Linked DNA regions of Homo sapiens. The protein of the gene in region 3 purifies or fractionates together with the protein of the main gene of each other region. This does not show direct contact. Each region holds a gene or a part of one and is shown on either strand. Other genes may lie near its edges.

The links.
Region 1: the proteins of CCDC69 (region 3) and PSMG4 purify together in Homo sapiens (affinity purification with mass spectrometry; 2 studies listed by BioGRID and IntAct, with this or other methods). This does not show direct contact.
Region 2: the proteins of CCDC69 (region 3) and CLTCL1 purify together in Homo sapiens (affinity purification with mass spectrometry; 2 studies listed by BioGRID and IntAct, with this or other methods). This does not show direct contact.

The regions. Positions count from the first base shown.
Region 1 is NC_000006.12:3,265,485-3,268,650, reverse strand, and holds the end of PSMG4 (proteasome assembly chaperone 4), read right to left. Parts: exon of another isoform or gene 1,061-3,166; coding exon 939-1,060; 3' UTR 602-938; downstream 1-601. UniProt on the Homo sapiens protein: Chaperone protein which promotes assembly of the 20S proteasome.
Region 2 is NC_000022.11:19,281,691-19,285,343, forward strand, and holds part of CLTCL1 (clathrin heavy chain 2), read right to left. Parts: intron 1-3,653. UniProt on the Homo sapiens protein: Clathrin is the major protein of the polyhedral coat of coated pits and vesicles. Two different adapter protein complexes link the clathrin lattice either to the plasma membrane or to the trans-Golgi network.
Region 3 is NC_000005.10:151,189,495-151,193,147, forward strand, and holds part of CCDC69 (coiled-coil domain-containing protein 69), read right to left. Parts: intron 1-3,653. UniProt on the Homo sapiens protein: May act as a scaffold to regulate the recruitment and assembly of spindle midzone components. Required for the localization of AURKB and PLK1 to the spindle midzone.

The DNA.
Region 1 (3,166 bases), on a different chromosome or scaffold from region 3:
AGGGGAGCTTTCAATCCTGCCAAAGCCTGGGCCCCAGACCATCTGAACCTCTGGAGAAGGCCCAAGACTGGAACCCACTCCAAGTGGTGGGATTAAAGATTAAACGCTAAAGAGTACAAATGACCAAAGCAGGTACCTGAGGTACTCTGGATTTGGGATAGAAGAGAGGGGAGAAGGGAAGACGATGAAATAACAGGAAGAGAAAGAAGGACCTGAAGCCTCTGAATCCATAAAAAGGAAGGAAATCAAACTATAATTGACATCTAAGTGCCACGGCACTTATAGTTTGCAAAGCATTTCTACCTACGTGCTTAATCCTAAAAAGAACCCACCAAGGTGGGGATTACTCCAACTTTATAGATGAGGAGACAAAGCCTAGAGAAGTCAGACTTCACAAGACCGCAAATGCAGTAATGGGGCAGTGTAGGGAGGTGCTCAAATGTAGGCCCAAGAGAGAACACAGCAAAAAAGGAGTGCCCAGAGGAGGGGTTTAGGGAGAACACAGCAAGAAGAGACGTGCCCTGGGGTTTCACTGCAATGAGGAGATAAATGCATCAATTCACAAGGCAGAATTCTGAGGAATGCACACACAAATCTAAAGCATATTTATACATCACTTTAATTCTAATTGAGGATGCACGTCACAGTCATGTCTGATTGAAACTCTTAGATTACAGTCTTCAATCCCAACAAAAATCCCATTTCATCCCTCTATCACTCACAGCCAAATGAGGAAGTATATACTGCCCACTTTGCCTCTCCTTCACCAGGTGGGTCAGTATGAGCCTTTTGGCCCACACACTGCTGAGAAGGAAGCTCAAAAGATTAACCCCTTAAAAACAAAACGGGAGCGCGGCCTGATGACAAACTGAAATTCAATCCATTTATTTACACGTACATTGTACATAAGTTTACAAATTCTCACTTCTGCCACTCAGCTAGAACTTTTCGGGGAAAGCCTCCATCTCTTCCTTGATCCTGTTTTCTACAAGTAATGCGAAGTTACTGTCTGTGTTCTGAAGGTTATAGCTGACAAACACCTGTTTGTTGGTCTTCCTGGCTAAAAAGAGAAAACACATTGATACAGCCACTCCTGAAATACTGCAGGCCCCGTGTTCCTCACAGCCACGTGCAGCTGGGAAATGCTCAGAAAGAGGATGGGGTTGTAGGGAGAAAAGAAAGCTCTAATCTCCATGCCTCTCTTCAGACAGGTGCTGCAAATGCAGACGAGTCACTCAGGCCTCTCCCAGTCTCTCCACCAGACCCAGGGTTCTGAAGGGCAGGCCCCACCTCAGCAGCCTCCCTGGAACTTGTTCGAGAGGCAGCTGCTGGGCCCCACCCAGCCCTCCTGACCCAGAAAGCCAGGATTTGGGGCCAGCTGTCTGCTGGAACAGATCCTGCAGGTGCCCCGCACTGCTTAAGAACCTCTGCCCTACACAGAGGGGTTTCTGGTGTTTTGATTTAAAAAAAAAAAAAAAAATTTAAACACAAAAAATGGCCGGGAGCGGTGGCTCACGCCCATAATCCCAGCACTTTGGGAGGCCGAGACGGGTGGATCATAAGGTCAGGAGATCGAGACCATCCTGGCTAACACGTTGAAACCCCGTCTCTACTAAAAATACAAAAAATTAGCCGGGCATGGTGGCGGGCGCCTGTAGTCCCAGCTACTCGGGAGGCTGAGGCAGGAGAATGGCGTGAACCCGGGAGGCGGAGCTTGCAGTGAGCCAAGATCGCGCCACTGCACTCCAGCCTGGGCAATAGAGCAAGACTCCGTCTCAAAAAAAAATAAGTATTTAAAATAAAATATTAAAGTTCTCCTTCAGCACCACCCCACCCCAACCAGTTCCACTTCCCTCCCTCCTACGTTTCCATGCATTTGCATATATGTGTATACACACAAATATATTTGTGTGTGTGTGCACAGATAGGCATATGGACACACACGTAATTTTCTACTGAATGTAAGTTTTAGTCCCCTTCTACAGAATCAATAGAAAATGGCTGAGGTGCACATTGGGCCAACTGCAAAAATCAAGCAGAGTCATACACCTGGAATCTGAAAGCCAATATCCTGAAAATACGTGGGCAAAAAGGCTAAAGCAGTTGGATGTTGCCTGCCCCACTGCGCGGCCTCCTCCTTTAGCCTCACCCATACGCAGGGCCAGTGCAGAACTACTCACCCCTGGAGAGGCACTGACCCACCCCCACCTCAACATATGGCAAGCATGTACTTAGCCTCATCACCAAAAGGCAAAAGGGTGGTGCGGTGAGGCTGAGGGCACCAGGCCACCTGCACCATTACTAAAGGCCGATTTAGAACACACGTCATGGGATCTCATCTGGGCAGCAGTTCTGTCCTTTCAGTTGCTGCCATCTGAGCTATGGTCCCACCAAGAACCCTGAGAGGCAGTGTGGCTCAGGGGCGCAGGTGCAGGCGCAGGCCCAGGCCCCACCGTGGCCTGGAAACCTCTCCCAGCTTTGTTTGGAAATTGAGGAGAGGGAGAGCCCAGGACCCCAAAAGCCTGTTTTTCCGCTGTACAAGGCTGCGTGATTTTTAGGGCTGGAAAGGTCTTGGGTATTAACTCACTGACTGTCCTTACAAAGCAGCCAACACACCTATGAAAAAGCAAGGCGGCGGCAAGCACAGCCTCTGCCTGAGGACAGCTGCTGAATTGTATGACATGTGTTTACGTCTCGGTAAAGCTGTTTTTTTATTAAAAAAAAAAAAAAAGGAATGTGTCCGGACAAAGGCAGCTGTTCGGTTATTCCAAGAGCTGGTGTTTAAAGAACAGCTTACAGTACTTAGCACAGAGCCTCCCACCAGTGTGCTGGGTGCAGTGTGCCCCCGAGGCGGAGAGTTGTGCCCAGTTATCTGCTCAGCCCTGCGGGGAGTGAGGAAGCCTCTTAGGCTTCCCCCACCATTAGGGACCAACCTCATCCTTTCCTAGCTGTGTTAGGCAGGCTGGGACCACTCATGTAGAGGGTGATCTAAAGGCAGGCAGTGTGGTAGGAAGCTGGGGCTCACCAAGGCTGCCTAGGAGGAGCCTGTAAGTCACACCCTGCCCTATATCCCAGGGGCAGGAACATCCCCCTTTACCCTAAGGGGGCCCCCCTGGTATTCCAACTGTTCTAACTGCAGAGACAGGATTTCTGAGGAACAACGCTG
Region 2 (3,653 bases), on a different chromosome or scaffold from region 3:
GTTTTCTAAATTGTCCTTTTGTTCTCAGTTTGGGGATCGATGTTGGGTTAATACGGTGACATTCTGATTTCAACTCCAAATACCAAGAATTGGTAATCCTGAATAATTTGTATCCAATCTCTTGAGCATAGTGGGTTCTTAAATAATAGTAGCTGAGTCAAGTTCCTTATCTAAGAGCATACATACACATGTATGGCATTTGAAAAAGGTAAAAGTCCCTCACAAATAAGACAGTGTTTTAACAACTGAGAAGAGTGGATCCAAAAATAAGATAAAGACTATTAGAATCAGATTAAATTAAGACAGTAGTTCTCAACCAGGAGTGCTATTCTGCATTCTTCAGAAATGGGAAAGGGGCGGCCGGGCACGGTGGCTCACGCCTATAATCCTAGCACTTTGGGAGGTCGAGGTGGGCAGATCATAAGGTCAAGAGATGGAGACCATCCTGGCCAATATGGTGAAACCCCGTCTCTACTAAAAACACAAAAATTAGCCAGGCATGGTGGCGTGCACCTGTAGTCTCAGCTACTCGGGAGGCTGAGGCAGGAGAATTGCTTCAACCCAGGAGGCGGAGGCTGCAGTGAGCCAAGATCGCGCCACTGCACTCCAGCCTGGCGACAGAGCCAAGACTCCGTCTCAAAAAAAAAAAAAGAAATAGGCAATGGGTTCGGGCGCAGTGGGTCACGCTTGTAATCCCAGCACTTTGGGAGGCCAAGACGGGTGGATCACTTGAGATCAGGAGTTCAAGACCAGCCTGGCCAACATGGTGAAACCCCGTCTCCACTAAAAATACAAAAATTAGCTAGGCCTGGTGGCATGTGCCTGTAATCCCAGCTACTCAGGAGGCCGAGGCAGGAGAACCCAGGAGGTGGAGGCTGCAGCAAGCCAGGATCACTCCACTGCACTCCAGCCTGGGCGACAGAGCGAGACTCTGTCTCAAAAAAAAAAAAAGAAAAAGAAAAAGAAAAAAAGAAATGGGCAAGGGTAGTTTTAATAGTACAATGAGTGGGGAACTCATTCTCTACTCATTTAGCCAGGAATGCTCAATACAGGACAATCCCACAAAAATAACTTTTCCATCTAAGATGCCAGATACTACTGTGAGTTTTTCTCCATACGCAGGAACTAAGTCCCAGAAAAGTGATGTGCTGAAAAGCCAGGTTTTTTCTTTCTTTCTTTCCTTTTTTTTTTTTTTTTAGACAGAGTCTTACTCTGTCACCCAGGCTGGAGTGCAGTGGTGGCACCATCTCGGCTCATTGCAACCTCTGCCTCCCCAGTTCAAGTGATTCTCCAGCCTCAGCCTCCCAAGTAGCTGGGACTACAAGTGCCCACTACCACGCCTGGCTAATTTTCATATTTTCAGTAGAGACGGGGTTTCACCACATTGGCCAGACTGGTCTCAAACTCCTGACTTCAAGTGATCCACCCGCCTCGGCCTCCCAAAGTGCTGGGATTATAGGCGTGAGCCACAGGGCCTGGCCCAGGTTTGTTTTTTTTTTCACTAGTTAGTAGAAATAACCAAGGATTCCTGATCCCTAGTATATTATTCTGATAGGTAACCTAGCTACACATTTTTAAAAAAATTTTCTTTCTTTTTTTCTTTCTTTTGAGACAGAGTCTTGCTCTGTCGCCAAGGCTGGAGTGCAGTGGTGCAATCTTGGCTTACTGCAAAGTCTGCCTCCCACACTCAACCGATTCTCATGCCTCAGCCTCCCAAGTAGCTGGGAATACAGGTGTCCGCCACTGCACCTGGCTAATTTTTGTATTTTTAGTAGAGACAGGGTTTTGCCATGTTGGCCAGGCTGGTCTTGAACTCCTGGTCTCAAGTGATCCACTTTCCTCGGCCTCCCAAAGTGCTGAGATTACAGGCATGCACCACTGCACTGGACCTTAGCTACACATTTTAAATGGCATATATAAGATTTAACTAAAGAAAGGTAAAGAAGATGCTGTCTAATGATCCTTTTCAGTTCTCAAAGCCTGCAATTAAATCAATCAAAATTCAAATCTGACAATGGGGGCCAGACATGGTGGCTCATGCCTGTAATCCCAGCACTTTGGGAGGCCGAGGCGGGTAGATCACTGGAGGTCAGGAATTCGAGACCAGCCTGGTCAACATGGTGAAGCCCTGTCTCTAGTAAAAATAAAAAACTTAGCTGAGCATGGTGGCACACGCCTGTGGTCCCAGCTACTCAGGAGGCTGAGGAACAAGAATCGCTTGAAACCAGGAGGCAGAGGCTGGAATGAGCCAAGATTGTGCCACTGCACTCCAGCCTGGGTGACAGAGACAGACCCTGTCTCAAAAAAAAAAAAAAAAAAAAATCTGACACTGGGGAATATGCAAAAAGAAATTACTCATCTGATAGTCCTGTGGTTTCTATGTATAAGGGGCTTAAGGAAGATGTCTGCCTGGGAGGACTACAACTGTGTTTGTACAAGAGTATTAGTGAGAACATCAACTGCCTACATCAGTGAAGCCAGAATGCTTAAGTTGCACTGAACATCCCCATGTTTTCACACCTATGTGGACACCAATATTTTTTCTTTCTGTATCTGTCTCCTTCCCAGTCTCACTCACTGCTTTATCCTTGTGCCTAGCATATGGATGGTAAACAAATAGTAAAACAAATTACTTGTTTCAGGGCAGTAAAATTTAGTTCATCTACAGTTTTTAAAACATACTTTGAGGGCCTGGCGTGGCTGCTCACGCCTGTAATACCAGCACTTTGGGAGGCCGAGGCGGGTGGATCACCTGAGGTCAGGAGTTGGAGACCAGCCTGGCCAACATAATGAAACCCCATCTCTATAAAAATACAAAAATCAGCTGGGTGTGGTGGCGGGCACCTATAATCCCAGCTACCTGGGAGGCTGAAACAGGAGAATCACTTGAACACGGGAAGCGGAGGCTGCAGTGAGCCAAGACCACGCCATTGCATTCCAGCCTGGGCAACAAGAGTGAAACTCTGTTTCAAAAAAATAAATGGGCTGGGTGCAGTGGCTCACACCTGTAATCCCAGCACTTTGGGAGGCTGAGGTGGGCGGATCACGAGGTCAAGAGATTAAGACCATCCTGGCCAACATGGTGAAACCCCATCTCTACTAAAAATACAAAAATTAGCCAGGCATGGTGGCACGCACCTGTAGTCCGAGCTACTCAGGAGGCTGAAGCCAGGAGAATCGCTTGAACCGGGGAGGCAGAGGCTGCAGTGAGCTGAGATCATGCCACTGCACTCCAGCCTGGTGGACAGAGCGAGACTCTGTCTCAAGAAAATAAAATAAAAAACACATTTTATATTTGAAACACGCTGGGCGCGGTGGCTCACGCCTGTAATCCCAGCACTTTGGGAGGCCGAGGCAGGCGGATCACAAGGTCAGGAGATCGAGACCATCCTTGCTAACACGGTGAAACCCTGTCTCTACTAAAAATATAAAAAATTAGCTGGACGTGGTGGTGGGTGCCTGTAGTCCCAGCTACTCGGGAGGCTGAGGCAGGAGAATGGCGTGAACCCTGGAGGCAGAGGTTGCAGTGAGCCGAGATTGTGCCACTGCACTCCAGCCTGGGCAACAGAACAAGACTCCATCTTAAAAAAAAGAAAAAGAAAAAGAAAAAGAAACTTACCAAAGAGCCTTTCCTAGCCTAAAGAGGGAGCTCT
Region 3 (3,653 bases):
GTAAGATAATGCCCAAATAGCTAACATTACTATCATCACAGTCAAAGAATTAGAGGAAAAAGGGTGCAGTGCAAAAAAAAAAAATTGAAGAAAGAATGATTGAATATTCCACAAACTTGCCAAAACATAAACCTACAGATTAAAGAAGATCACTGAACTCCAAAGTAAGCCCAAAGAAATCCACACCCAGACAACATCATTTCCAAAAGCTAATGACACAGAAAAGGTGTAGAATGGAACCAGATAAAAATGGTACACTACATATAGGGAACAACAGCTTGAATAACTGTGTGTTTCTCATTAGAAACCTTAGAGACCAGAAGAAAAAAATTTAAAAACTGCTGGAAAATGTTGATGTTCATAATGTTGGGTTGAGGTCTACCATTTTAGGATGTGTTTTCTGTTTGTTCTCGCTGATCTTTATCCTCTGTTTTCTCTTTCCTGCTTTCTTTTGGAGTACAAAACCATAACAAAAAGCCCAGAATCCCATATGCAGTGAAAATATCCTTCAGGAAAGAAGATTAAATCGAGACATTCTCAGATGAAGGACACTTAGAATTCATCACCAGCAAACCTGCTCTAAAAGAATTGCTAAAGGAAATTCTTCAAATGAAACCAGAGGGAAACTTGAAACTTGAAACTTCAAGAATGTAGGAAGAGTAACAGAACTGGTAAAGACCTAAGTAAATACAATAGACTGTTCTTCCCTTGAGCTCTTTAAAATATGATTGATGATTAAATGCAAAAATTATAACCTTGTCTGATGGGGCATTAGATGTATGTAGATGTAATACATGAGATAAATGTAACAAAAATGGGAGAGAACAGAGGAACCTACATGACGGTAAGCTTTTTACATTCCATTAGATGTGGTAAAATAGCAATTTCAGGCCGGGCGTGGTGGCTCACACTTGTAATCCCTGCATTTTGGGAGGCCAAGGTGGGTGGATCATCTGAGGTCAGGAGTTCCAGACCAGACTGGCCAACATGGTGAAACCCGGTCTCTACCCAAAATACAAAAATTGGCTGGGCCTGGTGGTGGGTGCCTGTAATTTCAGCTACTTGGGAGGCTGAGGTAGGAGAATCGCTTGAACCCAGGAGGCAGAGTTTGCAATGAGCCCAGCTCATGCCATTGCACTCCAGCCTGGGTGACAGAGCAAGACTCTGTCTCAAAAAAAAAAAAAAAAAAAAGGAACTCTAAGTAGATTGTTAAGTATATTGTAATTCTTAGAGTAACCATTAAAAAAAATACAGAGATACAGTAAGAAAGACAATAAATAAGTTAAAATGGAACACTAAAAAATGTTCAAATACTCAAAAAAAAAGCAGGAAAGGGAAAACAGAGGATAAAGATCAGCGAGAACAAACAGAAAACACATCCTAAAATGGTAGACTTCAACCCAACATTATGAACATCAACATTATCAATAACAACAGTAAATTAAATGGCTTAAACATACCAAATAAAACACAGAGTATGTCAGAATGGGTTTTTAAAAACCCACCTGATGGGATCATTCATACCCCAAACCTCAGCATCATGTACTATACCCGTGTAACAAACCTGCATGTGTGTCCTGAATCTAAAATTAAAGTTGAAATTAAAAAAAAAAACCACCCACCAACTAACTACGTGCTATTTACAAGAAACCCACTGTAAATAGATGTTATAGGTAGGTAATAAGTAAAAGGGTGGAAAAAGAAACACTAATCAAAAGAAAGTCATAGTAGCTATATGATTTGCAGATAAAGAACTGAAAGGAGACATAGACAAATATGCATTATAATTGGAGACTTCAACACTCCTCAGCATTCCACATAAAACAGCCTGAAAATCAGCAAGAATATAGAACTGAATACTAACATTAACCAAACTTTATCTAATTGATTTATATCTAAAATACTCAACCCAACAATAGCAGAATACACATTCCTTTCAAGTATACATGAAACAAGATCGACCATACCCTGAGTCATGAAACAAACCTTAACAAACTATAAAAGCAGCAAAATACAAACTATGTTCTCTGACTGTAATGCAATCAAACTGGAAATCAAATAACAGAAAGAGAACCAGAAAATCTCCCAACACTTGGAAATGCACTTCCACATATTCAATGCCAGAGAGGAAGTCTCAAGGAAAATAAGACTGAAAATATTTTGAACTCAACAAAATGAAAATAAAACCATCAATATGTAGGATGCAGGTAAAGCAGAGTTTAGGAGAAAATTTATAGCTTAAATGTTTATATTAGAAAAGGAGAAAGGTCTCAAATCAATATTCTAAGCTGAAGAAATCAGGAAAAGGTATCAGGCCCAGTGACTCACACCTGTAATCCCAGCACTTTGAGAGGCGGAGTCAGGAGGACTGCTGAGACCAGGAATTTGAGACCAGCCTGGGTAACATAGAGAGACCTGCCTCTGTTAAAAATTTAAAAATTAGCTGGCTAGGTGTGGTGGGGTACCTATAGTCTCAACTACTCAGGAGGCTGAGGTGGGAAGATTGCTTGATTCCAGGAGTTTGAGGCTGCCCTGAGCTATGATCATGACACTGTACTCCAGCCTGGGAGACAGAGCAAAACCCTGTCTCAGGAAAAAAAAAAAAAAAAAAAGAATGAAAAGAAATAAAAAAAAAAAAAAGCTAACCAAATATAAAGCAAGCACACAGAAGGAAGGAAATGAAAATAACAGAAACCAGTGAGATGGAAAATGGTAAAATAAGGGGGGTGGGTGGGGAAATCAATGAAACCAAAAGCTGGTTCTTTGAAATAATTAATAAAATTGATAACCTCAAGCAAGACTGACAAAGAAAAGAGAGAACATACACATGACCAATATCAGGAATGAAATATCACTACAGACACAGCAGATATATGAAATGATATTAAGGAAATATGCTGAACAATCCTATGCACCTAGATTCAACAACTTAGATGAATGTAACAATTCTTCAAAAAAAAAAAATGACCAAAACTCACCCAAGGTGAAGTATATAACCTGAAATTCCTTTAAATATTAAAAAGAAATTGAATTTGTTGTTAAACACTTTGAAAGACATGCCCAAGCACAGATTATTTCATTGAAAAATTCGATTAAACATTTAAAAACGATATAACACCAATTCTATATAATCTCTCCCAGAAAGAGAAGATGAGGGGACATTACTACATGGGGCAAGCTTTATCCTGATACTAAAACCAGATAGTGTAAGAAAACTACAGGCCAATATTCCTCATGAACATAGACACAAACATTCTCAGTAAAACATTAGAGGATCAAATTCAGCAATACATAAAAAGAGTAATATAACACAACCAAGTGGAGCTTATGCCAGGAATGCAAGGCTAGTTCAATGCAGTCAGCCTTCTGTATTTGCAGGTTTCCCATCCTCAGATTCAACCAAGTGTGGATAAAAAAAATTTGAAAAAATAAAAATAAAAAATACCAAACAACAATAAAAGATAATACAAATAAAAATACAGTCTAACAACTATTCACCTTACTTTTACATTGTATTAGGTATTATAAGGAATCTAGAGATGATTTAAAATGTATGGAAGGATGTACATAGGTTATATGCAAATAATACGCCATTTTATATAAGTGACTGGAGCATTTGCAGATTTTGGTATCCAAAGTGGGTCCGAGAATCA